Linked DNA regions of Homo sapiens: region 1 is linked to region 2. The links come from fine-mapping of genetic effects on gene expression. A gene starts in region 2. The other region holds a variant in brackets. All regions are shown on one strand. Distances are between the middles of the regions. Region 1 overlaps LOC105374040 (a long non-coding RNA gene). Region 2 holds the start of PHLDB2 (pleckstrin homology like domain family B member 2).

Evidence for each region.
Region 1: its variant is fine-mapped to the expression of PHLDB2 in fibroblasts (GTEx, PIP above 0.99). The same link has a PIP of 0.9 or more in subcutaneous fat and tibial artery.

The regions. Positions count from the first base shown.
Region 1 is chr3:111,795,374-111,810,687 of GRCh38, reverse strand. LOC105374040 (a long non-coding RNA gene) reads left to right here. Exons shown (of 4, transcript XR_924333.4): 3 at 1,407-1,504; 4 at 6,240-11,510. LOC107984087 (a long non-coding RNA gene) reads left to right here and starts at 12,093. Exons shown (of 4, transcript XR_001740848.2): 1 at 12,093-12,135. It also overlaps a transcript of PHLDB2 not described here. The variant A/G (reference allele first, on the strand shown) is at 7,277.
Region 2 is chr3:111,850,772-111,866,085 of GRCh38, reverse strand. PHLDB2 (pleckstrin homology like domain family B member 2) reads right to left here and starts at 6,821. Exons shown (of 18, transcript NM_001134438.2): 1 at 6,510-6,821. It overlaps LOC105374040 (a long non-coding RNA gene), which reads left to right and starts at 5,270. Exons shown (of 4, transcript XR_924333.4): 1 at 5,270-5,426. RefSeq lists enhancers at 5,388-5,497, 5,828-6,412, 6,413-6,999 and a silencer at 6,304-6,363.

The sequences.
Region 1 (15,314 bases), 55 kb after region 2:
AATAGCGTCCTTGGAAAATTTATATGTTGAAGCCCTAACCCTCAATATGACTGTATTTAAAGAGAACTTTTAGGAGGTAATTAAGGTTAAATGAGGTCATAAGAATGGGGTCCTAATCTGATAGGATTAGTGGTCTTAAAAGGAGACGACAGACAGAGCCCTCTCTTCACATACATGCACCAAGGAAAGATCATGTGAGCACACAACAAAGTGGGGGCTGTCTGCAAGCCAGGAAGAGGGCTCCCACCGGAAATTGAGCATGCTGGCACCCTGAGCTTGAACTTTCCAGCTTCCAGAATTGTGAGAAATAAACTTCTGTTGTTTAAGCCGCCCAGTCTATAGTATTTGTTATGGCAGCCTGAGGAGATTAAGATAGTCATGCAGAGTAGGCCTAGTTTCAGAAATGGACATGAAAACACACGGTAATATGGTCCCAGATAGGCCCCTTCCTGGAACACATATTTCCTATCTCAGGTGCTCTCAGGTTGTGGTTAGTGTGTATGGCCTCTGTGTGTGTCACCTTGCATTTGGCTTAATAGCCTCTAGCTTCTTTCAGATAGCTCCATGGCAGTGTTAGAGTGATGCCCTACTGGTGTTTCCTTAGGATTGTTAACCATAACATGATGCACTAACGCTCTTAAACCAGCCTGGACAACATAATGAGAGCTCATCTCCACAAAAAAGTTTTAAAAAATTACCTGGGTGCAGTGATGCATGCCTGTAGTCCCAGCTACTTGGGAGGCTGAGGAGGGAGAATTCCTAACTATAGGTTGTACAACAGAACTCTAGAACGTCTTCATCTTGCATAACTGAAATTTGTTACTCTATTATATGCTTGAGGTGTATCTAAACTCTTGAGTTTGCATACTCTTTTATTACATCATGACTATTGTCTTCAAACCTTTACAAGTGACTGGGCTGATAAACTTAATTTAAAGTGACTCTTACTTCAGGTAAGTTATTTCATTGATTCATATTTCTTCCAAACTTAGCACCACCACAAATCAGAGCTTCTTGATGATAGGTAAATCTGCCAGGCTTTGCCTTAGCAACAAAGAAAAGCAAACTTACTAAAGATATTTCAGGGTCAAAGACCTGATATACAGTGATAAGTTGGCATTAGATAAAAAGAATCCATTTTAAGAACTGAGGGAGCTAATAAGTATGTGGGTGTTTGTGGAGAAAAGAAGAGGAAATCAGGCTTGTGAGGCTGGGCAGTGGCCCACTGCTGGACTTCAGATAGACTTTTCAGATTACTGACATGCCATAGAACCACAGGCTTGGAGACAGCATTCTCATAAGGGAAGAGGTTGAGCATAAGGTCACCCAAAGGCAGAAGAAAATATTTATTTTACTATTTAGAGTTGTTTTCCTTTCTTTAAACAAACTCTCCATCAATTCCACAGCAAGAGCTTTCTTCTGGCACATCTGGTTTATGTGAATACATTAGTGAGTTTCCCAGGAAGCCGCAGCATCACACAAAGGCCCATGATCATTTCACCAGGTAATGATTAATGTCATGTTACAGTTTCACAATATCATAATTGAATAATCAATTAACTAAGGTTTTGTGAGTACTATGTGTGAAGAACAATAATTTATTTATGTGACTATTCCTCCTCGATGACAGCAGTCAGTTCCTTCTGGAAAGTATAGATTAAGCCATTGCATTTCTTGGTAAATAAATATACTAGTCAAAGACCAAGATATTATTTATGTGTATGTACTAATGACTTTAACAGAGATATAAACCCTTATTTTAGGAATTGTTTAGTACTAGTAGTAGAGTTCTAAATGGATGCTATATAAAGAATTTGCTCTTTATTATATTAGTTATGAGAATTACAACCAGTGAATCATAGTAACTGGAAAATACCTTAGGGTTATAAAAGGAAATCCATTAATTGTACAAATTAAATATTTGAAGACCAAAGAGGGCAGGAGACTTATCCAGGCCTCCTGAGTCTTTAGAGTTTTTAATTAGAGCACCAGTCCATGCAGATTGTATTTGTCTTCTTGAAGCTGTGACTCATGAGATATACATGTATTGCTTAAGAATACATGTTTACTCTTTCTGCACTACCTGAGTGACAGGATCATCCATGTCCCAGACCCCAGCACCACGCAGTATACCCATGTAACAAACCTGCATGTGTACCCTCTGAATCCAAAATAAAAGATGAAAAAAAAAAAAACCCAGAATATATGTTTAAACACCCAGCTCTGACCGAGGACTCAAAAGAAAAGTGGCAGCACAGGATGTGGAGGTGAAGGGCAACCTCCTTTTTCCGAGCAGACATAGCTAATGTCATTCATGCAAAGCCCTTATGTTTGATTGCACAAACATACAACACCATGTAGAAAAATAAGAAAAGATCATCTGTGGATAGAACATCTGGGTGGGTACAGCTAGTCTCTGTGGTTTGTCTCTTTCTAAGATGTCAGAGTGGCATACTCTAAAGACAGTTCACCCCACAATTTTGAACACATTCCCTAAGACCCAGAGAATCAAACTGTTAATGCTGCTGTGAGTTCTTTACAATGGTTTTACATTAATATTGCCAGGAGAAACTTTAAAATCACCAATGCCCCAGCCCCTTTCCAGACCGATGAAATCAGAATTTCTGGGCTGGGTCCCAGGCATTGGTAATTTTTAACACTCCCCAGGTGACTCTAATGTGCAGCCAGGCCTGAGAACTATTGAGTCACTCATAAAATTAGGCAAAAAAAAAAAAAAAAAACACCCAGCTTATTTATAAAATGGTCCTCTTATCAAAGAAATAAAGCAATGTTCAGTTAACTACATTTAGCAAATAATTCCCAATTTAGCTGGCACTGTCTTAAATCTGTGAGATTCATTCTCCTCCTCTTCCTATTCCTCTTCCTTCTCCTTATTCTCTTCTCCTTCTCCTTCTTCTTCTCCTTTTTTGAGACAGGGTCTCACTCTGTCGCCCAGGCTGTAGTGCAGTGGGTCCATCATAGCTCACTGCAGCCTTGAATTCCTAGGCTTGAGCAATCCTTCAGCCTCAGCTTCCTGAGTAGTCAGGACTACAAGTGGGACTACAGGACTACAGGCGTGTAAATTAAAAAAATCACGCGCCTGGCTATTTTTTTTAAATTTTTATTTTTTTGTAGAGATGGGGTCTTCCTATGTGGCCCAGGCCTCCTGGGCAAACTCCTGGCCCCAAGCAATCCTCCCAACTTGGCTTCCCAGAGTTGCTGGGATTACAGGTGTGTGCCACTATGCCTGGCAGGGATTCATGCTTCTTTTGAGATTTAAATAAGTCAATGTTTAAACCCTAATCTTCAGTTTCCAACATTTATGACTTTCCCTCTTTATGTTCTTTGTCTCAAGATGAACATTTGTACTTTAAGTGATTTTCTAGTCAGCAATTATCATTTATTAAATTCCTAATGTTTGCCTGTCTCTATGTTTGGTACTCTGTACACTTAATTTATTCCTCACAACAGAGCTATGCATTAGACATTATTATCCTCATTGTATATAAGGGAAAATTGAATCTCAGATAAGTTGAGTTGGATGGCTAGAAATAGCCATTCTGATCCCCTAAACCAGGTTTATTTTTTTCCTATTCTAGTATCCTGTATCTAGTATACTGTATCCTGACAATAGCATGGTGTCACAGCTAAGTCCTGGACTGAGAATCGGCAAATGTGTGCTCTGGACCTGCAACTAATGTCTCTTACAAGTCCCATAACTAGAACTTCTTCATCTTAAGAAAACAAAAAGGGGCTGGGCATGGTGGCTTATGCTTGTAATCCCAGCACTTTAGGAGGCCAAGGCAGGAAGGGTGCTTGAGCCTAGGAAGAAGTTCAAGACCAGCCTGGACAACACAGTGAAACCCCATTTCAAAAAAAAAGTTATTAAAAAAAAAAAGAAGGGCTAGGTGCAGTGGCTCATGCCTGTAATCCCAGCACTCTGGGAGGCCGAGGCAGGCGGATCACCTGAGGTCAGGAGTTCAAGACCAGCCTGGCCAGTGTGGTGAAACCCTGTCTCTACTAAAAATACAAAAATTAGCCAGGTGTGCTGGCTCGTGCCTATAGTCCCAGTTACTTGAGAGGCTGAAGGCACGAGAATTGCTTGAACCCGGGAAGCAGAGGTTGCAGTGAGCCAAGATTGAGCCACTGCACTCCAGCCTGGGTGACAGAGTGAGACTCCGTCTCAAAAAAAAGAAAAAAAAAAGAAGAAAAAAAAAGAAAAGATTCAAGAAGGCAAGAAAGAAGCCAGTCACAGAAGACTACATTTTGTATTATATAAAATTCCATTTATATGAAATTTCTAGAAAAGGCAAAACTATAGAGACAGAGAATTGGTTCGGTGGTTGGCTGGGGTGGGAGAGGGGATTGACTGCCACAGGTGTGAGGGAACTTTCTGGTGTGATGGGTATGTTTTAAACTGGACTGTGGTGCTGGTTGCATAATCATATATAGTCATCAAAAATTCTATAATTGTACACTTACAATGGGAGAATTTTATGATATGCAAATTATTCCTCAATAAGGCTGTTAAAAATGGTACTGGGACTTGCACTAGAAGATGACTGCTATAATGATTCTAGAGATACTAACTCTTTATGGCATTTTCACAGCAGATAACTTGAATTGTTGAATCTTTAACAACATTTTGACCTGTTTTTTTATGTACCCATTTAAGTATCCAATTGATAACTCTTGACCAATTCTCTGTCTCTATTGTTTTGCCTTTTCTAGAAATTTCATATAAATGGAATTTTATATAATACAAAATGTAGTCTTCTGTGACTGGCTTCTTTCTTGACTTCTTGTATCTTTTCTTTTTTCTTCTTCTTTTTTTTTTTTTTGCATACATCTATGCAACCACCATCACAATCAAGATATAAACATTTCCATCATCCCAAAATTTCCCTGTGTCCTTCCCAGTCAACACTCCCACTCACCACCCCTGGCCCCAGGCACCACTGACCTGCTTTCTGTCACTATAGATTAGATTTGTCTTTACTAGCATTCCATAAAAATGGAATCAGACAGTATGTATACTTTTGTGTCTGGCTTCTTTCACTAAGCTTGCTGTTTATGAGACCCATCCATGTTGTTGCATTTATCCAGTAATTTTTTTTCTTTTTTTTTGAGACGGAGTGTTGCTCTGTCGCCCAGGCTGGAGTGCAGCGGCGCAATCTCGGCTCACTGCAAGCTCCGCCTCCCAGGTTCGTGCCATTCTCCTGCCTCAGCCTCCCGAGTAGCTGGGACTACAGGCATGCGCCACCATGCCCAGCTAATTTTTTTGTATTTTTAGTAAAGACGGGGTTTCACCATGTTAGCCAGGATGGTCTCGAGCTCCTGACCTCGTGATCTGCCCGCCTCAGCCTCCCAAAGTGCTGGGATTACAGGCTTGAGCCACAGCGCCCGGCCCCAGTAATTTTTTTTATTGTTGAGTAGTATTAGCTTGTATGGATATATCATAATTTGTTCTTGGCTATAATGAACAAAGCTGCTATAAACATTTATGTACAAGTCTTTTGTGGACTTATGTTTCATCTCTCTTGGGTAAATTCCTATATCTAGGAGTAGACTTGTTGGGTAACAAGGCACACGTATGTTTAACGTGTTAAGAAATTGTCAAACTGTTCTCCAAAGTGACTGAGGTTGACACTTTCAAATTCTACATTCTTGCTAGCAGTGTATAAGACTTCTGGTTGCTCCACATCCTCCCCAGCACCTAGTATTGTTCTATTATTTTATTTTTCACATGAATAACTTTTTATTTTACCAAAAACTTGATATTGTTCTATTGTTATTTATGTCAATATTTTATTTCTCAGTGAAATTTATTACATAATTTTGAAGTTTTTCTCAAAATAAGAAGTGGCCCACTTTTTAGAAGCCCTGTGTGCAAATTAATTCTTACTGTTCAGCATCACAGTTATTTAAAAAGTCAAATAAACACTGCAGTTTAGCAAAGTTTTCCCCCCAAAATTTCAATGGTAAGTATTAGCTGTAATTTTAAATAAGAAATGAAAGTTTAATTGGGCAAAATCTGGACATCCACATGGAGTAAAGTAGAAACCTATTAGTCAAGTGATGTGGGACTAATTTTTTGAGGTTTAGCTCCATTATTACTGTACTTATGCTGCAGATAGTATATCTTATACTCTGCGTAGAAAACAATACATCAGTAGGTTGGGGCCTAGCATCATCATTTACTTTTTTGCATCTGAGGCTTCTTTCTTTATTTCTAACAGGTTGACCTGAACATCATTGGCTAAACATAGGAAATCAAGAAATTGTTAAAACTTCGCCAAAGTTTTCTACCTCTAATAGTTAAGAGATGATGAAGGGAAGACTCTGTTCTTCAGAAGAATTCAATAATGTCTTCTTTCACAGGCTTTAAAAGATTATCTCTTCAAAGATTCTTCTAACTTTTTGTTTGTTTATAGACCATGTGTTCTCAATAGGAACAATATTGTCCACCAAAGGGTGAAAATTGGTTCTTGGGGGGTTTAACATTTTCTTACTATTTTAATGTATAAAGCACAGATATACCTATATACAGTTCACAAACAACATAATGGTGTCTCTGTGGCATTAAATCTCATGGAGGAGAGGACGATCAGAAAAAATGTCTAAAAAGGCTTCTTTAGGGATGTGATACTGAACAAAAGTTTAGAAACTGAATTAGAGGACAGGAAAGGCACATAAAGAGTTTAAAGGGACTAATCAAACAGGACGTTTTCAACTGATTACATGAATTTGGTCTGAGACTGATTCCTCAGAATGCCCCCCACTCTCAAGATACCATTTCACCTGAAGTCATTAGCTTTGGAATAGAAAGGAACAAATCTACGCTTTGTTAAGAAATATTTGTAAATTGGAAATTTTCATTCTTTATCTCACTTTGTTTTAAAGCAACATCAGAGAAAAAAATTGTTATATCCATTTTTTATAGCTGAGGGAAGTAACGCTCAATGAGGTTAACACTTTCAAATTCTACAAAGAATACACAGTTTCTGAGTGTAATTAGTGAATGTAAGAACCTGAGTTTGTTTGATTTCAAAGCCCATGATTTCCTCCCACTCATGTGCTAGCCAGGGATTGCTGGTGGGTGAGATGGTGTTCCATTCTACTATCCTGAGTTCACTGAAAATTGACTCAAATGCCTGAGTCAGGAATTGATGTGTTCTCACAGCTCGAATTCTGGGAAGACTAGTGGTGGGGGTGGGGCTGTCACTAAGATGTCCAGGAGTTCTGCACGGGGTGGTGGGGGCACATTCTCCCGGGA[A/G]GTTTCAACTGGACTGGAGTTTACAGGAATCCAAGAGCTTTGGCTAGAACAGAACCAATCTCAGGATTGCAGAGAACCCTGTTAGTAGCAACCTTACATTCCATTCCATATTTGTCAGTGAGGGAGAGGCACTCTGATCCCCATCAGAAATTTGAAGAACCACATAAGTTTTGGCTAGCTGCCTGTTCCCTCTGCTTCACAGCTTAACGATGAAACTTTTGTTTGCTGTGTTCTTCCATCCTCTGCTCCCAAGTAGCAGATGCCAACCAAGGAATGACTGCTGATTTCAAAATTAGAGAGATGGCCATATAGACTATGAACATATAGATCATTTCTGCTTTTTCTTTTGTTTCTAGAGATTAGTATAAAACTTTTTGTACAACATCCCCTATACTCATTAAATCTGTGACATCCTTGTTGCTACCTGATATCATATATCTGCTTTATTTTATATTTCTGCTTTTCCTTTTCCAGTGACAGGTTGCCATTTTAAAGATGATTAATTATCTATCATTTGGGAGCAGGACCATAACCTTTAACTTTTCCTGACAGGACAAAAAACATGTGTTCACACCACCCACCCTTATTGATTCTCATGGTAAGGAAGAAGAGAGGATCATAAACTAGAAGTGAAAAAATGGAAGTTTTAGTGCTTTTTCTTTAAAAGAGAGAGAATGCATGATGCTTGCCTCACTCTGCTGTAACGAATGTAAGTTAAAACTAAAATACAGTTTAGAAAACTTTCACATATTACTCACAAGAACAAGCTATGAGTGTTGTTATTTTACTATTTGCTAAATGTATAGTACTAATGTCTCTTCTAAGGGACAAATATCAAGCATTTCACAAGAGGTTACACGTCATCTTGCTCTATGCTAGCATGGAAATAAATGAGAGTTGGGAAAACAGGAAATAAATATTCTAAGTTATCAGGGAATGCTGCCAAGGCATCATAGGAGTGTCATTAGTTATTTTGGTTTCTCAACCAAGACCTGAGATACAAGGCTAGTGGGTGGTGTCTAGGACAACACAGAGAAAATGAGGAAGCTCTTGGAAAGTGCTCTCCCCTTGCTCTGTCTCCCCTTTATTCTTCACTCTGTAGGCCAGATCCTCTGGAGGCAGAATGCAGCCACCACTGTGTTTACACTTTGGTACAAGAGAGGTTTCTTGTATGTAAGCACAGTGCTCCATGGAGCCATAGAGATAGCTGGTGGCACTCTGCAGTTTTCTGTGCAGTAGCTTGATAGACTGGAGAAAGCCTGAACTAGGAGCCAAAGTTTTGATGTTAGATGCATAATCATCACAAGTAACACAAATCAATTTTTAGCAAGTTACTTAAATCTTTCTATCCTGGTTAATTTATTGTTTTACATTCTAAAAATTGAGATAGAATTCATATACTATAATATCCACCCTTTATAAAGTCTAGAATTTGATGATATTTGTGATTACATTCACAAAGTTGTGCAACCATCACTGCTATCTTATTCCAGAACATTGTCATCATTCCAAAACAAAACAAAACAAAACAAAACACCCATATCCATGAGCAGTCACTCCTTACTCTTCCCTCCTCCCAGTCCCCAGCAACCACTAATGTATGTTCTGTCTCTATAGACTTGACTATTCCACACATTTCATATAAATGTAATTATATGTTATGTGATCTCTTGTGTCTGTCTCCTTTCACTTAGCATAATATTTTCAAGGTTCATTCATGGTGTTACATGTATCAAAATTTTATTTCTTTTTATGGGCAATAATACTCAATTGTAGCTTATTGTTTAGTCACTCATTCATCTGGTCATCCATCCTTCACCTACTCTTCACTGAATACTTATTATGAACCAGCCTTGTCCTAGGCTCTTGGGACACATTTATTCATATTTGTGACATGAATGAATAAAGGCACAAATTTATTAACTATTATATAAAGATAAATATGAGATCTTCATATCACCTCAGTTAAAAATATTGGGTGAACAGATTGTTTATGAGCTTTTAAAATTTTGAGGTCTTTGTATCCAAAGGAGACCTGAGTTCTTGTTTAGTTTCTGTGTCTACTTACCCCTTGAAACTTAGATTAGAGGAGGGAGGGAGGCCTGCTTCATGAACCCCAGGACTGTGGGTTATTTCAATGTGGCCCTGTGCTCAGAGGGGCCTATGCTTGTTTTAACACTCTGTTGTGACTGTCTTGAAATTCTTAATAACTTTTGAACAAGGGGCCTTGTATTTCATTTTCCACTGGGCCCTGTAATTTATGTGGCCAGTTCTGAAGGGAGCAAATATTTATTAAGTGTCTACTCTGTATTGGCCATTGAATTTGACCCCACAGCTCATGTTGTTTAACAAGTCACATTTCTCTATTTTAAAAATGAGAATGTTACATTTAATATTATTTAAGGTCTCTTCTATGTCTAAATTTCACTAATTCTAAGTCTTGCAAAATGATCTATGAAGGCAATGTATTATACTTGTACCAGCTGATTCATCTTTTCAAGATTTATCTTAATTGGCATAACTTCTTAGAAATCTTCCTTGATTCTTTCCCCAGCCAAATTTAGTAAGCTTTCTTTTGTGTTCTCACACTCCCTCAGTGTTATTAACAGAGCTTTTTATAAAACTGGATTTTATGAAGTAAAAATAGTTTCTGTCTCTCTCATTGCATTGTATGTCCCCTTTAAATCAGGTACTGCATCTTAGTTAACGTGTAACTTGCAAAATGCTTCTTAAAACAAGCAGGATTAAAGAGTCCAATAGTAAAAATGAAAGTTCAGAAATGCCAGTTCATGACATTATTAGAGATGGGAAAATCTGAGGCAAACACATAGTCCACAACAAAGTCACTGGAATATAGAAACTAAAGATATACAGTGAGAAAAGAAATTAGGACATTTGCCCAAGTAAACTTAACTTAAAAGAACTATAGTTTTAAAATGATATATGCATAATAGTATAGGAATTTAATAAACAAAAAGTAATACAAAAGTAATACCTCTCCATAATTTTAAAATAATCAAAAGGCACAGAGGGTATAAAATAAAAATTTCTTTTCATGTAATTTCCCAGTCTCATTTTCCAAAGATATGCTCAATAAGAGTTTCTTGGCCAGGCATGTTGGCTCACGTCTGTAATCCCAGCACTTTGGGAAGCCGAGGCAGGCAGAAACTTGAGCCCACGAATTTAACACTAGCCGGGGAAACATGGCAAAACCCCATCTCTACAGAAAATTGCAAAAACTAGGTGGGCATGGTGGTGCATGCCTGTAGTCCTAGCTACTCAGAAGGTTGAAGTGGGAGGATTACCTGAGCCCAGGGAGGTTGAGTCTGCAGTGAGCCGTGATTGTGCCACCACACTCAAGCCTGGGTAACAGAGTAAGACTCTGTCTCAAAAAAAAAGTTTCTCGAGTATCCTCCTAGAAATGCTTTATGAGGAGTACATTTATACACTCTTGTTATTGCACAAATAGGATTCTATTTATATTTCTATATAGTTATTTTCCTTGCCTTTTACTTAGTAATATTTTTTAGACCTCCTCCCATATTGGTATCTATAGATCTCCCTAATTCATTTTCAGGAGTGCATAGTACTCTATGACATGTGTTGAACACAGTTAAATAAAGCAGTCCTTTCTGATGAATACATAACATTGTTTTCAGTTTCTGTAAATTATGGAAAACCACAATAGATATCTTCACATAGGAAGATATTCACAGTATAAATTTCCAGCAGTGAAATTGCTGGAAGTCTTTATAATTTGATTTTAAGAAAAACTTAATTCAGTACCCAACCTGATGTCTTTGAGACAATTTCACATTTACTTGTTTGTTCTTCTCCCTCACCTTCCTTTAGAATTTCTTTTTTCTGATTGGGATGACATATTTCTAAAGTATTTCTAGCTTTCAAAAAAATAATTTATAGAAAATCAGTCTATATTTTTAAAGACCAATTGAAGCTGTCTACCTCACCAATGTGAAGAACTGAAGTAGAATTTAATTTTCTTTTCTAATACTTTTTTCTAGTATTAAATTCAAAGACTACTATTCCTCTTTTATTTACAGCAGTCTGTGTTCAAATTGTGCTGACACCATGATAGATTTCAGAGTGATTTTTTTGGCTATGTGGGCCTCTCCCATTATAATAAGAGTACCAGCTTCTTAATGCTTGTGATATGATTTGGCTGTGTCCCCACCCAAATCTCATCTTGAATTTTAGTTCCCATAATCCCTAGGTGTCATGGGAGGGACCCAGTGGGAAGTAATGGAATCACGGGGGTGGTTTCCCCCATGCTATTCTTGTGATAGTGAGTTCTCACAAGGTCCAATGGTTTTATAAGGGGCTTCCTGCTTCACTTGGCTCTTATTTTTCTCCTTGCTGCCACCATGTGAAGAAGGATGTGTTTGCTTCCCCTTCTGCCATGATTGTAAGTTTCCTAGGGCCTCCCTAGCCATGCTGAACTGTGAGTCAATCAAACCTCTTTCTTTCATAAATCACCCAGTCTTGGGTATGTCTTTATTAGCAGCATGAGAGTGGACTCATACAGCCTGTCTCCATGTTAGCTCACCTTCCTGGCCCTCATATGAGGTCTAAACAACACTCCTTTGCATAGTAGAAATTCAGCATATATTTTGAAATTGATTGTATTGGAAACATCAAAGATGCCAGATCCTAGAATTGTTCAGATTAAAGATAAAATAACATTTTATTTTATTTTATTTTATTTTATTTTTATTAGAGACAGGCTCCGGCCCTGTCACCCAGCCTTGAGGACAGTGGCATGATCATAGCTCACTGCAGCCTTGGCCTCCTGGGCTCAAGTGATCCTCCTGCCTCAGCCTCCCAAAGTGTTGGGATTACAGGTATGATACACTGCACCTGACTGAAAATATTTTAAATAAATGCTTTAATAATTTCATTGCAGTTTTGTGGCCCAGGTAATTTTCACTTAATCTTACTTGATTACAGAAAGCAGTATGAAAAGTAAACACAAGGAAGCCTAGAACATACCAAAATTCTCCTATACAGATGATTTGAGTTTTAAATATTTTTAGGTCTTATTTCCTTGCTTTCTTTAGAATGATGGTAAAAATTGACTTTTTAAACATCTTTTGAAAAATTAGAGCACTCTCAGATTTAGAATGTTCCCTGATTCTTTTTCTTCTTCTTTTTTTAAGATAGAAAATTTGGGAGTAAATTATAAAGGCCAAGGTCTTAGAAGTTCACCTTGTTTTCTATTCCTCTACAATTGTTTTTCAAATTTTTCAAATTTTAATTTTTTGAGATAGGGTCTCACTGTGTCACCCAGGATGGAGTGCAGTGGCATGATTTTGGCTCACTGCAGCCTCAACCTCCTGAGCTTAAAGGATCTTCCCACCTCAGCCTCCCAGGTAGCTGGGACTACTAGCATGCACCATTACACTTAGCTAATGTTCTTATGTTTTTATAGAGATGGGTGTCTCACTATATCGCCAAGGCTGGCCTCAAACTCATGGGCTCAAGCGATCCTTCCACAGTGGCTTCCCACAGGGCTGTGATTACAGTCGCAAACCACTGCACCCTACCCTATTTCTCTACAATTGAGTAATCACAATTGCGTAGCTTTCGGCAAATCACTTCATTTCTCTGAGGCTTGGTTGTTCTGTTTTCTGCAAAGTTAAGAGCATCTTAAATATCTATCCAGTTCTAAAATGGTAGGACATCAAAGTGGGAGTGATGGTGGAGAAGGGTTGTGAAAGTTGCTTGTAAACATATTTAGCAGATTTACAGAAGTCAAACAAAGCAATGAAAAAGTTCCACATATAGGAGGAGTTTAAAAAGACACAGATGGTAGCAAAAATAGAACCAAGGGATTTTTGCCTTTGTCTCATGACAGACTGTCTTACGGAATCCTTACACATGGATTGAATTGCTTTCAAGTAAGGCAGTCAACAAGAATATGAAGGAAAAATTCTGTGGCAATGGCTGGGCCTCTAGTTATTCAGTGTCTGAGATAAGAATTAGGAAAGTGAGATGGTCTATAACCCACAATAACTACTCTCTGTGTGTGTATGTGTGTGTGTGTGTCTGCCTAAATAGAACTTAAACCATTCAAAGTTCCACATCTTTCTTTTTCATTTGTTAATTTCTTTAGCATCTGCTATTCATTAGGCACTGGTGATATGTGGTCAGTGGGGGAAACAGATATTGAGTCAATAATCACGTCAACACATAGATAATGACATATTGTGGCAATGCTAAGAATGACAGTAAATATAATGAGAAACTAAAGCAGGGTCACTCATTTAGATTATGTAATCAATGAAAGCCTTCTTTGAGGAGATCACATTTAGCTAAGACATGAGGCATGACCAGAAGGTAGGCAGGAAAAGAAGATTTTAGGTAAAAGGGTAGACTAATCCTGAGCTAGAAAAGGGTTAGAGGAAGTTTAAAAACAAACAAAACCAGTCATGTCAATAACCTAGAGAAGAGCAATAGGGAATAACACTAGAAGGCTTATAGGCCTTGTAAATCTTGATAAGAATTTTACATTTTATTATTGTATATCTTACTATTTGAGGATGTTACACAATCTGATTTGTGTTTTTAAAATCTCCCTCTTGGGCCAGGCACAGTGGCTCATGCTTGTAATCCCAGCCCTTTGCGGGGTCAAGGCGGGTCAGGAGTTTTAGAACTGCCTGGCTAACATGGCAAGACCCTGTCTCAGCTAAAAATACCAAAAATTAGCCAGATGCATGCCTGTAATCCCAGCTACTCAGGTGACTGAGGCACAAAAATCGCTTGAATCCAGGAGGCAGAAGTTGCAGTGAGCCAAGATCATGCCACTGCACTTCAGCATGGACAACAGAGTGAGAGTCTGTCTCAAAAACAATAAAAAATAAAATAAAATCTCCTACTGGCTATTCTGTGGAGAATCTGTTAGAAGCGAACAAATGGGGATTCAGAGATTGGTTTAAGGAGATATAGAGAATTACCAGAATTAGGAAAGGGATAACATCAGGATGATAGCAGCTTGAACTAGGTAACAGCAAAGGAGCTGGAGAAAAGTGGAGAGATTTTGGCCATATTTTGAGGGCAGAATCAACAAGACAGTGTCTTAACACTTCTGGTATTTTGTTTGTTTCTTTTTAGGTTTCATTTACTTTGTCTTCACTACATCTAGTAAAAATGAAAAGGCGTTTTTCTATTCCTCTCTCCCTCTAAAGAAAACAGGTCTTGGCTGGATGTGGTGGCTCATGCCTGTAATCCCAGCACTTTGGGAAGCCGAGTCAGGCAGACACCTGAGGTCAGGAGTTCGAGACCAGGCTGGCTGACATGGTGAAACCTCGTTTCTACTAAAAATACACAAAATTAGCCCGGGCGTGGTGGCGGGCGCCTGTAATCCCAGCTACTCAGGAGGCTGAGGCAGGAGAGTCGCTTGAACTCAGAGGGCGGAGGTTGCAGTCAGCCGAGATCGCGCCACTGCACTCCAGCCTGGGCAACAGAGTGAGACTCAAAACAAATAAACAAACAAAACAAAAATTAGATGGGTGGGGTGGTGCACACACCTATAATCCCAACTGCTGGGGAGGCTGAGGCAGGAAAATCGCTTGATCCCGGGAAGCGGAGGTTGCAGTGAGCCTAGATCACATCATTGCACTCCAGCCTGGGTGACGGAGCAAGACTCCGTCTCAAAAACAAAAACCAAAAAAAACCTACCCAGGTCTTTACTTATGAAAACTAGGTAAACTGAGGCATGTTGAATGATTATCCAAAAGGAGGAGGAGCTCCAAGGATTAAAGGAGGCAGTGTGGGTGGGAAAGAGAGTGGGATTTCCCAAGACTTCAAGATGTATGGAAGTGAGATTATTTATCAAAAGCCTACTTACTTTCAAATAAATATTGTAGGGACCTAGTTCTGCTCCCATGTGACTCACTGGAGATGGCAAGATTGTTGATGGAGGCAGCATTGTGAAGGACTGTGTGGAGACTCTTAATGAAAGATCCTCAGCTCAGGCTTACCACAGAGAGAACAGAAGCAACTGCATTCAAATGGACCATAG
Region 2 (15,314 bases):
ATCGCACCACTGTACTCCAGCCTGGGTGACAGAGCAACTCTGTCTCCAAAAAAAAAAAAAAAAAAAAAAAATGAGTGGGTGGGGTAGGTTTCTAAAATATTGTAAAGTAAAAATAATAATTATGATAATATCATATCTTCATTACTTAGCAGCTGATTGTGCAGAATGAGTATTATAAAACACTTAATTTTTCCCTTCCATGCTATCTACCTTTTGACCACTTACTGCTTGAAAGAAGGGAAATAACTTGAACAAGTCAAGATAAACAATTGACTAAGTTTAATTTAATTTTAATCAATGCTTTTTTTTTAATAACTCTGGCCAAAAGATCTAATAAAGGAAATGGTTACGTTAGGATGTTATTTTTATTACAGTGGCCAATCTAGTAGAAAGAACACTGGATAGGCTGCCAGGGAAGCAAGTCAGAAGATCCATCTTAGTTCTGGTTCTGCTAACAGAACTAAGATCTGGAGCACGTCAATTCGCCTGTCTTCATTTTGTTTCAACAGGAGTTTCTCCATACTCAACATGGTGAGAGTGAACTACATGTTCTTTCTGCTCCAACTTTCTGGACTCCCACAGATACTGGTTAAATAACACAGGAGTGCTCATTACATAATGCAGGAAATGGAAATGACCACAGAACAGAAATAGTTTTAGTGATAAGGTGGCAGCTACCTAATTGGGAAAAGATTTCACCGGACTGTTGCCCATGACATTCCAAAGGCATGGTAAATTGTTTTAGCATAACATAGTGGGAAAAAGGCCTGGTCAGAGTTATGGTAATGTAATATAATATGGGTATTTGATTGAGCATGATGTATAAGAAAGGTTTTGTCTGCATTCCCATGGCTTGCAGTTTCCTTAATAAATCTTAAGCTGTTTTTGAAAAGCTACTTCTGCAATGACGTAAGCAGTGAGGCAGCCAGACATCACTTCTCAATCCCCTCTGAATATCTCTTGGCTGTGCGGCACTATTCACACTGGGTCTGCACTGGTCAAAAGAATGTAGGAGCTGGGTTTCTTTTGCCTTTATCTTTCCTTGTTTTAGCAGTAGGGTGGTCAAGAAAGAAATCTTGGAAAACTCTTGTAATCTTTAACTTTTTTGCTATTTCATAGGCTAGTTCCATGAACATACTGCCATCTAGGGCAGTCACATGCAATGTGCAAACAAAACATTCTAAGATGATCAACACCAATTCCCACTGAATTAGCAGCAAGTCTCAGAAAAAGCTGACCTGGCTTAAGGCCATCGATAAACAGTGGCATACACAATATTTTCTTTCCTTTTACTTTGTAAAGTAAGGAAAAGCACTTCATCTAATAAAATCAACCTAACACACTAAACAAGTATCTCCTGTAAAAATCCTCTCAAAAACTTTTTGACTAACCCTGTTACTCTATATCTTATTAATCTGTTTCTTTGTATAGCAATTACCTACAACCTCTAGTTTCCCACACAACAGTAAAATGATTTTTACACTTGGGTTTCTCTTATTGACCACTAGCTGCTATAGACAACTATCTTGCCTTTAAAGCAGATACAGCACAAAGCTCCTTTTCTGCAATGTCTAAGAAACATCCTTAAGCGTCATGAAAACAACTGTAAGCAAATTAACTCCCAGAAGGTTCAAATTCCTGGATGAACATAGAGAGAAGTTCTGCCTTGCTAAATGTTTACTTTGAAGGGATTTGAAAATCTGAGCTAACAATTTTGGTTTCATTTATTTTTAAAAGACAAGTTACTTTAATCAAATCCCAATAAATATTTCTAGCCAACAGTTATTTTTTTAAAAACTACTCCTGTCTCCTCTCCCATCATCTGAAAAACAGTAACAAGAATGGCCAGATGAAAGATGATAATGAAAAGACTGCTACACCCCTTTTGCATAGTACCTGCGGGGGGGCAGATCCCTTAAAAGGGCTATCACTCTTGAGTCATTTCTAAATATATCACTATGTACTTGGCTTTGAGGTGCACCCTTTGGCTAGTTGTCAAAATGATAAGAAACTATCTTAACACTTTTCAGAGGTTTTATGTCTCCCACCAAAGGCATACTAAAAACTTTCCTATATGGCCAGAACCTGTCAGATTTGAGTATTAGATAAAATAACTACCACAGGAGGACAGCTTGGCACCCAGAACTAGAATCTATAATCATGAGCCTAATGGCTAACCATAGCAATGTAAACAGGAGAGTATACATGTTTGTAATTAATCAGGCTATGGTGTACAACTTTTCTGATAATCATAAACTCATTAAGGTAACTCCTTTCTATAAACAGCCATTCACAAATACCATGCTTTTTAAACTCTCCCAAGTAATTAACAATAACTTTCTTTACTATCATTTTCTTTCCCATTAGGTAAACACATGGAATGGTAGAGACTGTGGGTGCAGGAGAAAGTACAATAGAACAGGAGGCTTGCAGATTCTGCCGCTATCTAACCCAGTTAGTTGGTTGGAGGGAAAAGATTCAGATAAGAGGATTTCTAAGGTTCCTTTTACCCCCATAGTTATTTTGTTCTACATGCTGAAAGAATAGCTAAGCTTGAATTGTCTTCTGATTCTTAATCCTAGTTCTATGCAATTGAATTTATATTAGATATCCCCTCATCAGCTTATGAATTTCTCCCACAATTTCCCCAACACTTGCTCATTTCCATATATGCCAGGTGTCTTTTTTTCTTCCATACTCAGGAGGCCTCTGTAATTCTCCCTTCTGTCCAAGCCAGCCCTATCCATTCATGTACTCTACTCTTAACCGATAAGGCAGGGAGGAACAGAAAATCTCAAATGTTCTGTTTTGTACCTGGATTCAAAAGCAACATCTGCTATGTCTGTGGAACCATCTGTTGCCTACTTTGCCATGGAAAGGACAGTACAGGCATCAGAAGTGGAGTGTCACAGGTCATATAATGGAATTACCCCTTTCTGGGACTGGGGCACCCAGGCACGTGCCCCACAGTCTCTATGGCTAATGCCACCCCTCCCCCATCGAAGCATTTATTTATTTTCTCACAGGGAATGGTGCTTTGAAACTTTTACACAAGGTCAGGTCCAGTGTGTTTTGTTTTTTGTTCCCATTTGCCTGAATCTCTATTTTAAAATTTTTAACTCCTGGGTTGTACCTAGAACTTTGTCTGCCCGCCCTTAGCTCGCTTGAGACCTTATGAGTCCTAAAGCTCTGAGTGTCTCAGTTTTTTACATCTATAAAAAGAAGGGGTAGAAATTAAGTGATCTCTGAGGCTCCCTTGTGCTCTAATGCTCCCAAATCCCATGACTTTAATCCATCTCAAAGTTGTCAATGAACACAAGTTCCTCGACCTCTATGGTATATTAAGACTCTAAATGGCAAGGACAAAAGAATCTGCTGCATACAAAACGGCTTCTATGATAAGGGTCTCTTGTTTAACACAGTTAAACAAGTTTCTTGAGGATCCAAATCAGATTAAGATGCCTAATCTTGTTAACCTACTCCCCCAGGCAATACTGTAGTGCAGGGTTTGGGGCTGCATAATTGTTTTTGTGTCCCGTGCATGGCAGGGTGCTTAACCGCATCCCAGGCCTCTACCCACTATATGGCAGTAGCACTCTCCTCCTGTCAGTTGCTACAACCAAAAATACGTTGCCAGTATCCTCTGGGGGCCAAAACCCCTCTCCCAGTGAAAACCACAGCTCTAATGTATGTCAGGACTTTAAGATAAAGCACATCACTTAGGTGTTTTTGTTTCAAAAGAGTGACATTTACACAATCAACAATTGGTACACCAAGACTTTACAGATAGATTCATAAGGCACAGGTACTCCACCTAGAAAATGTACAAAGCCACTGTCACTCTAAGCCATCCACAGCACCATAGCACTGCCTCCCTGCTAAGGGTTGAAAATCAGGATATAAAGCCATAACGTTAACTACTCCTTTAAAAATATTTAAAAGGAGACCGGGTGTGGTGGCTCATGCCTGTAATCCCAGTACTTTGGGAGGCCAAGGCAGGTGGATCACCTGAGGTTAAGAGTTTGAGACCAGCCTGACCAACATGGCAAAATCCTGTCACTACTAAAAATAGAAAAATTAGCCAGGTGTGGTGGCAGGCGCCTGTAATCCCAGCTACTCGGGAGGCTGAGGCAGGAAAATGGCTTGAACCAAGGAGGCAGAAGTTGTAGTGAGCCGAGGTAACTTCTCCAATGAACTCGAGAGTCAACCCTTGCTTATAGATCTCAAAATGGAGCTTTGAAGAAAATAGGGAAAACCAGAGATTGGTTAATCACTTTGGCTTATTTTTTCCTCTCTTGCATACACAACAAACACACATGGTAAATAAAACGTTTCTGGAAAGGTTGCTAACGAGTTTCAGCTTGGTCACAGTTATTGAACGGAGGAGTAAGCAAGCTCTCAGTCCAATTTCCCAAGTATCTTTTCCTCCCCTTTTCAAACAGGGATCCAGGCGACACTCGTGGCAGACGATCTCAACACCAAAAGAACAGCAGCTGCCAGCTGCATAAAACAGATTGAGGCCTGCAAATTGACTGAAATGATGACTACTCTTAACCAGACATCTCATTTTTCCACTTCTGACAGGCTGAGATCTGCAAACCTCTGGGTCTCAAGAGATGAAGGCTACATTAGCCAACTAAGACGACAAACTCAACTCTTCCTTGTCATTAAATAATTTGCCAGTTATAAATGGTTTGGTAACTTTACAGAATTTAAGTACATGTAATGTTTAAATTTCCCCATTAAATGTAAGAGGCAAAGAAAATCCTTTTAAATAACTAAGCAGAGGATATGAAAGGGGAGCCAAGAATAGACAGAACTGTTACTTTTCAAAGAACCTTCGCTCTTTATTCAAACAAATATTTACACAATTGAAGGCAACGGCAAGAGAGATATAGCCATTCTGTTAAAATAGTGGGCAACTCTAACGGTTTATTTATCCCAAATCCGACAGTTCTGTTGCTAACCTACCAGGAACCAAGAATTCAAGTGTTCACAGGGCAAAAGTTTAACCTTCTGAAACTGTGGACCTCATTTAGATCTCTCCCAGCCGAATTCAAACGTTAGAATCCCAGAGACATATCTCGAACGCCCAAATTAAACCAAACTAGGAAGCTTAAAATTACACGTCCAATACTTGAAAACCTACATCTGTAACTTACACGTTCATATTACGAAGGGAAATGTGGCTGACAAATATTTACACTAAAAAGACTCCACATTTTTATGCCTCGTCTAGTTACACTCCCAGCTGTGCCTGGCTATGACTAGTTGTGCATTCTAGAGCTCTTTAGAGCTACTTCAGAGTTGCAGGATAAAGATTTCTAGGGAAGAGGGCAGGGCCAGGCGCCCGGAGGATTTCCAGCCACGGGTAGTTTACCGAGAGAAAAAGCTGCGGGCGTCGCTCCCTCTTTTACATAAGAAAGGTAAGTGAGGAACCGCGAAGCAGTTTGACTTCTCAAGCTCTTTCAAACAGGAAACCCCAACCCTGGGAGGGACAGCCTGTCAGCCTTTTAATTTCCTGGTGGTGGCGGGAGTTAGCCAGGTCCTCGGCGCTTTAATAAGTGATGACTGCTAGGGCTAAGTTATTAAGCGAACCAGCAAACGATTCAGCTGCGCCTCCGCCGCGCAGGGAGCTGGAGAAACAGAGGGTTAAAATACTCCCCAAGCCTTCCAGCTGCTATCTCTAGGGGTGCCGAGACGGCCACACTGTAAACTTTCAGTGGGGGGTCAAAGGCCAAATCGAAATCAGCCGCTTTTGGCGGTTAAAGCTCGTAGGTTCACTCTTGAAAGAAAGTGGAACTAGAAGCGCAGCTAGCCAAATATTTGCGGGGAGGGAGTCTTCTCTGAATCCCGCGCCCTACACCATCCAGCAGCGGACCTTCTCTTTCTCAGGGAGCTATCCCAAGGATCCCCATCCCTCTCTCCATGTGCATTCCAGAGTTGCTGGAAAAAGTTGCCCCCAGTTCCCCCACATTCTGCCTGTTTTCTACAATCACTCTGGAAGCATCTTCCCTACCAGACACTCCCTCCCCGGGATCCCCTCAACCGGAGATCTACCCAGCCCCCCGAGAGTCATGCACAACGGGGTTCGCCACCCCCACCCACCCAGCTGCGCAGCCTGGGCACTGCCGACCCCAGCCCGGGCTTTTGTCCCTACAGCCTGTAAAGAAGCAAAGAAACTCTGTGTCCCCGGAGCCCACTCACCGTCTCATCTTTCCTCCAAACCGCCGCTCTACGCTGGCGCCGCCGCCCTAGCGCCTAGCCTTTGCCCCCGCCCACCCTGTCTCCCTCCGTGAGCCCGCCGGCCCCTCCTGACTCGCGGTGAGCAGTCAGCGCGCCCCTCCTCGGCCCGGGCAGCCACTGCCTCCTCTCCGCCCCCAACCCTCCGCAGCGCAACCGGCGGCAACCAACTCGGCCGCGGGGGAGGCAGCGTCCCCGGGACGCACTCCTGGCACACGGAGTCGGCACCACCCCCTCCTCCCGGGCGACCACCGCCGCCTCCTCACCTGGCCATTGGTGCAGCCCGTTCCCGGCGGCGAGAGAAGGCAGGCGCGCTCCTTGCGCCACGCCACACCGTCGGGCCCCCGTCGGGTCCCCCTCGGGCCGCAATGGTGGGCTCCGCGCGGCTGGGTCCGGCACTCTTGACCCCCTTTGTAACCACCGCGGCGGGCACCCAGGGAGTTCGAGCAACGAAGTTGGTGACCTGCCCCGCTCCCAGGCAGTTTGCTGTTGGGGCTTTCACGGCTGCTGGAAGGGCATGGCTGTTTGCCCCATCACTGGGCGCCAGCTTCTCAAAGCTACGTTCGCAGCAACGCAGTAGGGACTTTCGTGGCAGGCTTTTTTTAAGAGCTGAAAGAAGGGCGGGAGGGTTTACGTCCTAGGGTGATGATTTCCTCACCAGACAGCGAAGTATCTATTGGGAAACTCCAGGTGACCGCACCTCCTTCCGACAGTTCGCCCCGGGGCAAGTTTACCAGCTGCGTCAGAAAGCAGGTTTGCAAAATCCTTGGAGAACGGCCTGAGCTAAGGACTGGGGTCAGGAGGGTTTTAAACTCATTCTGATTTTCTTGCAATCATATCTCTTGAAAGTTTTTATATTTTCCCCAATATTTTTCTGAGTTGCTATATCCAATGAAAACAATGCTGATGTAGAGGTCCACCAGCCAATGCTTTATTGGAAGTCAACGAATGAGACCGAGGGTGGCCCATAATCAATCTCGGCACGCGGGAATGTGAACCTCTTCCAAGGTCTGGGCGAGTCCCTAGAGTTACGCAGATGAAGGACATTGGCCCTCGAGAATCTCACACCAGCAAAGAAGAGCACAACGAAGCGCAAACTACTTATGATCATTGTGGCTTTGGGCAAGTTGTTGTAGCTCCCAGCAACAATTTCTTCACCTGGAGTGCAGCAATAAATGATACTGGTGCTGCAGGGCAGCTAATAAGCTTCTGAATAATATATGCAAAGTACTTGGCACCATGAGCAGAACTCAGTATACCGTCACTGAAGAAATAGCTTATTTAATGATTACACTTTTCATATGTGCAAGTAAAAGTTTGACTTTTAGGGAGAGCCTCACCTACGGAATGTCTTTTTTAAATTTCTTTTTTAATTATACTTTAAGTTCTGGGATACATGTGCAGAACGTGCAGGTTTGTTACACAGGTATACATGTGCCATGGTGGTTTGCAGCACCCATCAACCCTTCATCTAGGTTTTAAGCTCCGCATGCATTAGTTATTTGTCCTAATGCTCTCCCTCCCCTTGTCCCCCACCCCCCAACAGGCCTCAGGGTGTGATGTTCCCCTCCCTGGGTCCATATGTTCTCATTGTTCAACTCCCACTTATGATGAGAACATGCAGTGTTTGGTTTTCTGTTCCTGTGTTAGTTTGCTGAGAATGATGGTTTCCAGCATCATCCACGTCCCTGCAAAGGACATGAATTCATTCTTTTTTATGGCTGCATGGTATTCCATGGTGTATATGTGCCACATTTTCTTCATCCAGTCTATCATTGATGGGCACTTGGGTTGGTTCCAAGTCTTTGTTATTGTGAACAGTGCTGCAATAAACATACGTTTGTATGTGTCTTTATAGTAGAATGATTTATAATTCTTTGGGTATATACCCAGTAATGGGATTGCTGGGTCAAATGGTATTTCTAGTTCTAGATCCCTGAGGAATCGCCACACTGTCTTCCACAATGGTTGAACTAACTTATACTCCCACCAACAGTGTAAAAGCGTTCCCATTTCTCCACATTCTCTGCAGCGTCTGTTATTTCCTGACTTTTTAATGATTGCCATTCTAACTGGCGTGAGATGGTATCTCGTTGTGGTTTTGATTTGCATTTCTGTAATGACTAGTGATGATGAGCTTTTTTTCATATGTTTGTTAGGAATGCCGGGTTTTTTAGAGGAATTCTTTTCCCTGTCCTGAGTTTTTGCCCTGCAGAAGCATACATACACTGATCAATCCAACAGTTAAACAGTTAAGTGCTCCAGCAATGTTCTTTTCTCACCCACGTCATCTCTTTCCTCCTCTTTTTTGGATCATCCCCATAAACATACAATCATTTTATTTCCATTACCTTGGAATTTTTTTTTCTTTTCTTTTCTTTTTTTTTTTTTTGAGACAGGGCCTCACTTTGTCACCCAGGTTGGAGTGCAATGGCACAGTCATAGCTCACTGCAGCCTTAACCTCCTGGGCTCAAGTGATCCTCCCACTTCAGCCTCCTGAATAGCTGGGACCACAGGTGCAGACCACCATGCCCAGCTAATATTGAATTTTTTGCAGAGATGGGGTTTCACCACATTGCCCAGACTGTTCTTGAACTCCTGGGCTCAAGCGATCTGTCTGCCTCCGCCACCCTAAGTGTTGGGATGACAGGTGTGAGCCACTGTGCCCAGCCTCCTACTTCCCCTTTATCACTCACTTAGCCCCTGCCACAGTGGCCTCGTAGACTAGATTCCTAGGTAAATCCGTTCTATCTCAGGGCCTTTGTTCTAATTGCCCTCTCTGCCTATAATTCCCTCCTCCCAAGTATCTGCATGGTTCACTCCCTCACTTCCTTCAAGACCCTGTTCAATGTCACCGTGTTGCTCAGGCCTGCTCTGACCACTCTACTTAAAAGTTTAAAATGTGTTTTCCATACTACTTAAATTTACTTTTTGACAAAGTCACCACATTCTACTATATTGTAAAATGTACTTTTTAAATTATGTTTATTGTCTGTCTCTCCTCACTAGAATGTAAGGCAGGCAGGCAGAGAGTTTTGCCTGTTCTCTCCAGTGCTATATCCCTAGTGTGCCTACAAGGATACCGGACATGTAAATGGTGCTCAAGAATAAATGATGGCTTTGACCCAAAGCACTGTGTTGCAAACATTTCCTTGCCTCGAGCAATGCCAGAAATACACTTGACTACACAGACATCTTAGAGACAACCTTTCTCCCTTCAGGTCTAAGGAGAATGTGCACCAACACAGCACATTTAGAATGGCCATAATTAGATTGCCAATATTTATGTCTAAGAAAAAAATAGCTAAATTTATTGAGAGCAATAATTACTATTGTATACGTATCCGGTATTCTTCCAAATATAGGACAATATTAGTTGATGCGGTGAGAGTTACTGTTTGTTACTACTCCCATTTTATAAGTAAAAAAGGAATCACAGAGAAGTCAGTTGTCACTCAGGTAATAAGTTGGTAGAGGCAGAATTTGAGCACTTGTTCTTGAGTTCATTGTCTTTAATGCTACCTTCTACCTCTTTTCTAAGTATGAATGTTACTAGGGGATATTTCTGTATAATGAATAATTCCAAATTACTAGACAAAAAGTAATCCTCACTGGCCTCCCTTCACTGCCTTGTTTTATCTGCTAGCATCTCTATCTCTTAGGATAGCCAAGCTCCTAGAAGGCAAAGGGAGTCATTTTATTCATATTTGTATGAATCATACTCCAAGACTTATATATGGAAGGGACTCAAAAAGTAGTCATTGAATGTGACTTTTTCAAGTGACTAAACCCAGCAAAGTTTCCCATTCCTGATGAGTTAGAGTGGTTTTCAATAGCTTTCATAAGGCCATAGCAGCCTGAAGATAGACGAGACCACCCTGAAGGTGCAAGTCTTAAATTAGATAAATTCAGTCCAGGCTCAATGGCTCATGCCTGTAATCCCAACACCTTGGGAGCCGAGGTAGCAGGATTGCTTGAGATTAGAAGTTCCAGAGCAGCCTGGCCAACATGGCAAAACCCGTCTCTACTAAAAATACAAAAATATTAGCCGGGCATGGTGGTGCACCATCTGTAGTCCCAGCTACTCAGGAGGCTGAGGTGGGAGAATCACCTGAGAATTCGAGGCTGGGTGATCCATGATCGCACCATTGCACTCCAGCCTGGGTGGCAGAGTGAGACCTTGTCGCCAAAAAAAAAAAAAAAAAAAAAAAAGACAAATGCAGACCTCAACATCTATAGAAAGCACTCAATAAAGTGCAACTGTTATTGTTATTATTATATTACCAGACTTTCTTTTAGTAATGGTGATGGAAAGAAAGAAGAAAGAAAGGAAAGAAAAGAAGGAAGGAAGCAAAGAAGGGAGGAAGGAAGGAAGGAAAAAGAGGGAAGCGCGGGAGGGGGAGAGAGAGAAAGAAAGAAAGGAAGGAAGGAAGGAAGAAAGAGAGAGTCTTTCTACCTTTTCTATTTCCTGGGTTCTTTATAATAAAGTTTTCTGTTTAATCACAGACCAGAGTCCTGCCTGCGCTCTGCCATTCCTTATCACTAGAGATATTGTGTTGTAAACTAAACAGCAGACCTTTCTTGTTTGCCTCTCCAGGATCTGTAGTGGTTACAGTCCCTGATCTTACTTTCCTGTGTCCTTCACCCTCTCAGGTGGGGAACCTTAAAGTGTTGCACAGTGTTGAGGCTAAAGCAACTCTATCTTGGATGCTAATCTGCCATGCTGACTTTTTTTTTTCTTTTTACCCTAATTCCATGGAAGATTACCTGTTGACTTCTGATTAACCCGAGTTCTGGGAATTACTCTAAGATTTGTACTTTATCTACTGATACCTTAAATCCTGCCCCTGGGTCAAAACAACCTTGACCATAAATCCTGCCCATGGGCAGATTCACAGAGCATTCTTGCCTCTCCCCAAGGGGTCGACTTCAATTCTCCTACACATTCTTTTCCTTTAGTTTATGTGTCTTGACTCTGGGAGTGACAGCGTGGAGATGCACCATCTTTTTTCACAGCCACTGGGGACATGGCTTCTGTTCATAAGTCTCTATTAAATGTTTCTTTCTGAGAAACTGGACTTGTCAGCCTCTTTCTTTGGCTTTTCAGCTTCTGTGGTCTTTGGGAGTAGGTTTGTACATACCTGCTCACTTTGAAACACATACAGTGATATTATGAATTATTTATGTTATTCCATTTGTAATTATTTTTGCTATTGTTCTCTTTTATTAGAAAAGATCGGTTGGATTTGATTAACTTTTTATGTCCTGAATCTGTATATTTGCTCCTTTCTCTGCAATGATAGCCTAACAAATCTTTGTAGCTATTAACTCATTTCAATCTTACTGCAGTTTAACTCATGGAACAATTGTTTGTGCTGAAGTTCGCTTTAATATTATGATGATTTAATGAATCAAGAAGTTTCTACTTGCAAAGTGCAGTGGAAAAATCATTGACTGTGAAGTAAGGCAGAACTGGGTTTTAAGCCCTGATTCAGCCCCTTTGCTAGCTAATATGGTTTGGCTCTGTGTCCCAAACCAAATCTCACCTGGAATTGTAATTCTCATAATCCCCAAGTGTCAAGGGTGGGACCAGGTGGAGGTAATTGGATCTTGGGGGCAGTTTCCCCCATGCTGTTCTCATGATAGTGAGTTCTCATGAGATCTGATGGTTTTGTAAGTGTCTGGCATTTCCCCTTCTTGCATTCATTCTGTCCTGCTGCCCTGTGAAGAAAGTGTCTGCTTCTCCTTTGCCTTTTGCCATGATTGTAAGCTTCCTGAGGCCTCCCCAGCAATGTGAAACTGTGAGTCAATTAAACCTCTTTCCTTTATAAGTTACCCAGTCTCAGGTATTTCTTTATAGGAGTGTGAGAACGGACTAATACAATAGCCAAGTAATTTGAGTGCATTATTTATCTTCACTGAGAAGCAAACTTCTATTCTGAAAAGTAAGAACTATTTTTTTTTTTTTGGAGATGGAGTCTTGCTCTTGTTGCTCAGGCTGGAGTGCAATGGCACGATCTTGGCTCACAACCTCTGCCTACTGGGTTTAAGCGATTCTCCTGCTTCAGCCTCTGGAGTAGCTGGGATTACAGGCATGCACCACCATGCCTAGCTAATTTTGTATTTTTAGAAGAGATGGGATTTCACCATGTTGGTCAGGCTGGTCTTGAACTCTTGACCTCAGTTGATCCACCCACCTCGGCCTTCCAAAGTGCTGGGATTACAGGTGTGAGCCACCGCACCTGGCTGAACTCACATTTTATGAGCCAGTGTGTTAATGTAGGTACCATTCCTTGCACAGAGGACAGACAGCACAAAAAGAACACCCAGCAGAGTAGTTTCCAACCACGTTTGCCTTTCTGGAACTATTGATAATGATGTTGACCATTGAGTTATACACTGACTGTCCTATATAAGTTCAGTTCCAATTTACACACTCTTTTTAGTACTTAGATAAATTGTCTCTCTAAAAAATGAATGTACTTTCATTTCTTAGAAAAGTCATCTTCATCTATTTTCACATTGGATCTGCAACTGTTGTTAAGGGAAACTATGTAACCCACTGTTTCTCTTTGTATCCTTGTTGCCAGGAAGCCCAGAGTCAAGCTTACCATTAAATTTTTGTGTAACGGTAATAAAGACTTTGCTTTCCTCTCCTTTTTAAAATGTTGATGTATTTTTATTCCAATAACCTTATTGAATATTTGGTTTTTACTATACATTCTCTAATATATATTTAAATAGATAAAGTATAAATAACATATTAATCAAATTAATACCAGAATGTTAACCAAAACTAAAGTGAAAATAACTTTTTAACCTCCTAGGGGCATAAAAAGGGAAACACCTAATTTTTGTCTCCTCAAGTTTAATGATTATCCCCATGTGCTGGTTTATCTTTAAACAATTACAAGGTAGGTTCTCTAATTATGAGAAAAATGTAAATCTATTTGGAACATCTGATTAATTTCTGCATTAAACGTTCTCCTTCTGCCCTACCCCCAATCTTTTCTGTGAGTCTGTATTGTAATCAGGCAGGAAAAGGATGGTGTGTGTGTATGTGTGTGTGTGTGTGTGTGTGTGTGTGTCTTTTAGATTAACCTATCCCAGCTGTGTTATCTGGCTCACTTTTCTTATCACTTGAGGACCCTGAATTGGTCTACTTTGCCTGCGTAGTGGGCTTAAAACAAGGAGTTTCTCTGTATCTTATCTGCTTATCATGGAAAAAAGAAACCAACACCTTAACAGCAGTATTCCTCGATACTGAAGAGAACTCAGCTTCTCTTCTCTCTGTTGGTTTTCTTTGTTTTTCCTTTCATCTGACTTTCATCATCCCTCCAGTTATACCATACCTTGATTTCAATTTGTCCTTAATGTTATACATAAAGATAATTATATTATGTATAAAGATAATTATACATAAGGATTATTATAATATATAATCCTATGTATAATATTAATTTATGTATATATAATATATGTGTATTATATATGATCTTTACATATAACATAATTGTATATATAATATATATTTTACATATATATGGAGAGAGAGAGAGCGAGAGAGAGAGGGAGAATGCCACCTTGGGCATCTACCCAATTTGGATAGATGTCCAAATTGATGTGTCAGATATACACAGACTTCAGCACACGGGAGAATTCTGACAACTGAGAGCAGGGGCCAGGATTCAGAACATGAGGAATGTTAAAGGCAAATTTACGAAGCACCTACTCTGTTTTATACTGCCTAGCATATAACTGTAATATGATAATGTAATATATACTAAAAAACAATGATACAGAAGAGTTCAGGTGAAGGGGTATTTGTGTCCTATGAGTCCAACAGGGAAGACAACATATGTGAGTTTCATATTGAAAAAAAAAAGGTTGAGGGGCCTTCTAGGCAGAGGAAAGACCATGAGCAATGTAGGAGGACAGTAAAGCCAAGGCAGATTTGGGAAAGAGTGAGTAATACAGCCGCCTGAGCTGGGGAGGGAGGAGTAGGAGATAAGATCTAGGGTGCTGGGGCCAGATTTGAGGAAAGGGGAAAGATGGGGCTTTGAATTTTAGGCTTCGCATCGAATACCATTTTAATTATGTCATTTCCTTACTCTAAACTTGCACTGGCTTCTTGCTGCGGGACAACAGGAAGAGCCAGCGGCTATGTAGGAAGTGGAACAACATGATTATATAGGCATAGGGTGAAAAAGAAATATGAGCTCCAGCCACAACATTTAAAGACTTTAATAAAGCCGCACTCTACTTCCTGTATTAAACAAGGTGTCAGTCTCAAGTCGAGGCTGCTCAACTGAGAACTGCGTATTCATTAGGGCCACAATTAAGATATTAAATCTCTCCATCCACTCCTGACTGCCCTTTTCCTTTTTCAGAGTTATGATTACTCTGTAGTCACAGATCCTAAAATGCTCACAGAAATACACATGAGCAGGCCCATTTTGGCTGTTGGGTCACTGATGGACTAGAAATTCAGTGACAACATTCCAATTAACTGGCTGTGTCTGCAGGGGCTCAGAGCTACTTGCCAGACCATTTTTAATTTTCCACTTGATGGGGGCAATGTCATTGCTTCTCTCAGGAGAATCGCAAAGAACACTAGTAAAAACCTTTTTTTTTTTTTTTTTTTTTTAAGACAGAATCTCGCTCTGTCACCCAGGCTGGAGTGCAGTGGCGTGATCTCGGCTCACTGCAAGCTCTGCCTCATGGGTTCATGCCATTCTCCTGCCTCAGCCTCCCGAGTAGCTGGGACTACAGGTCACCACCACCACACCCAGCTAATTTTTTGTATTTTTAGTAGAGACGGGGTTTCACTGTGTTAGCCAGGTTGGTCTCCATCTCCTGACCTCGTGATCTGCCTGACTCGGCCTCCCAAAGTGCTGGGATTACAGGCGTGAGCCACCACGCCTGGCCAAAAACATTATTTTATAGCACTCAACTCTGACTGGAGATTTATGTTAGTGCTCAATAAATTCTAAATGGTTGTTTGAAGCATTTATTTCTGAGATACAGATAGTGATGTTATGACTAGTATAGTTCTTTTATTTATTTATGT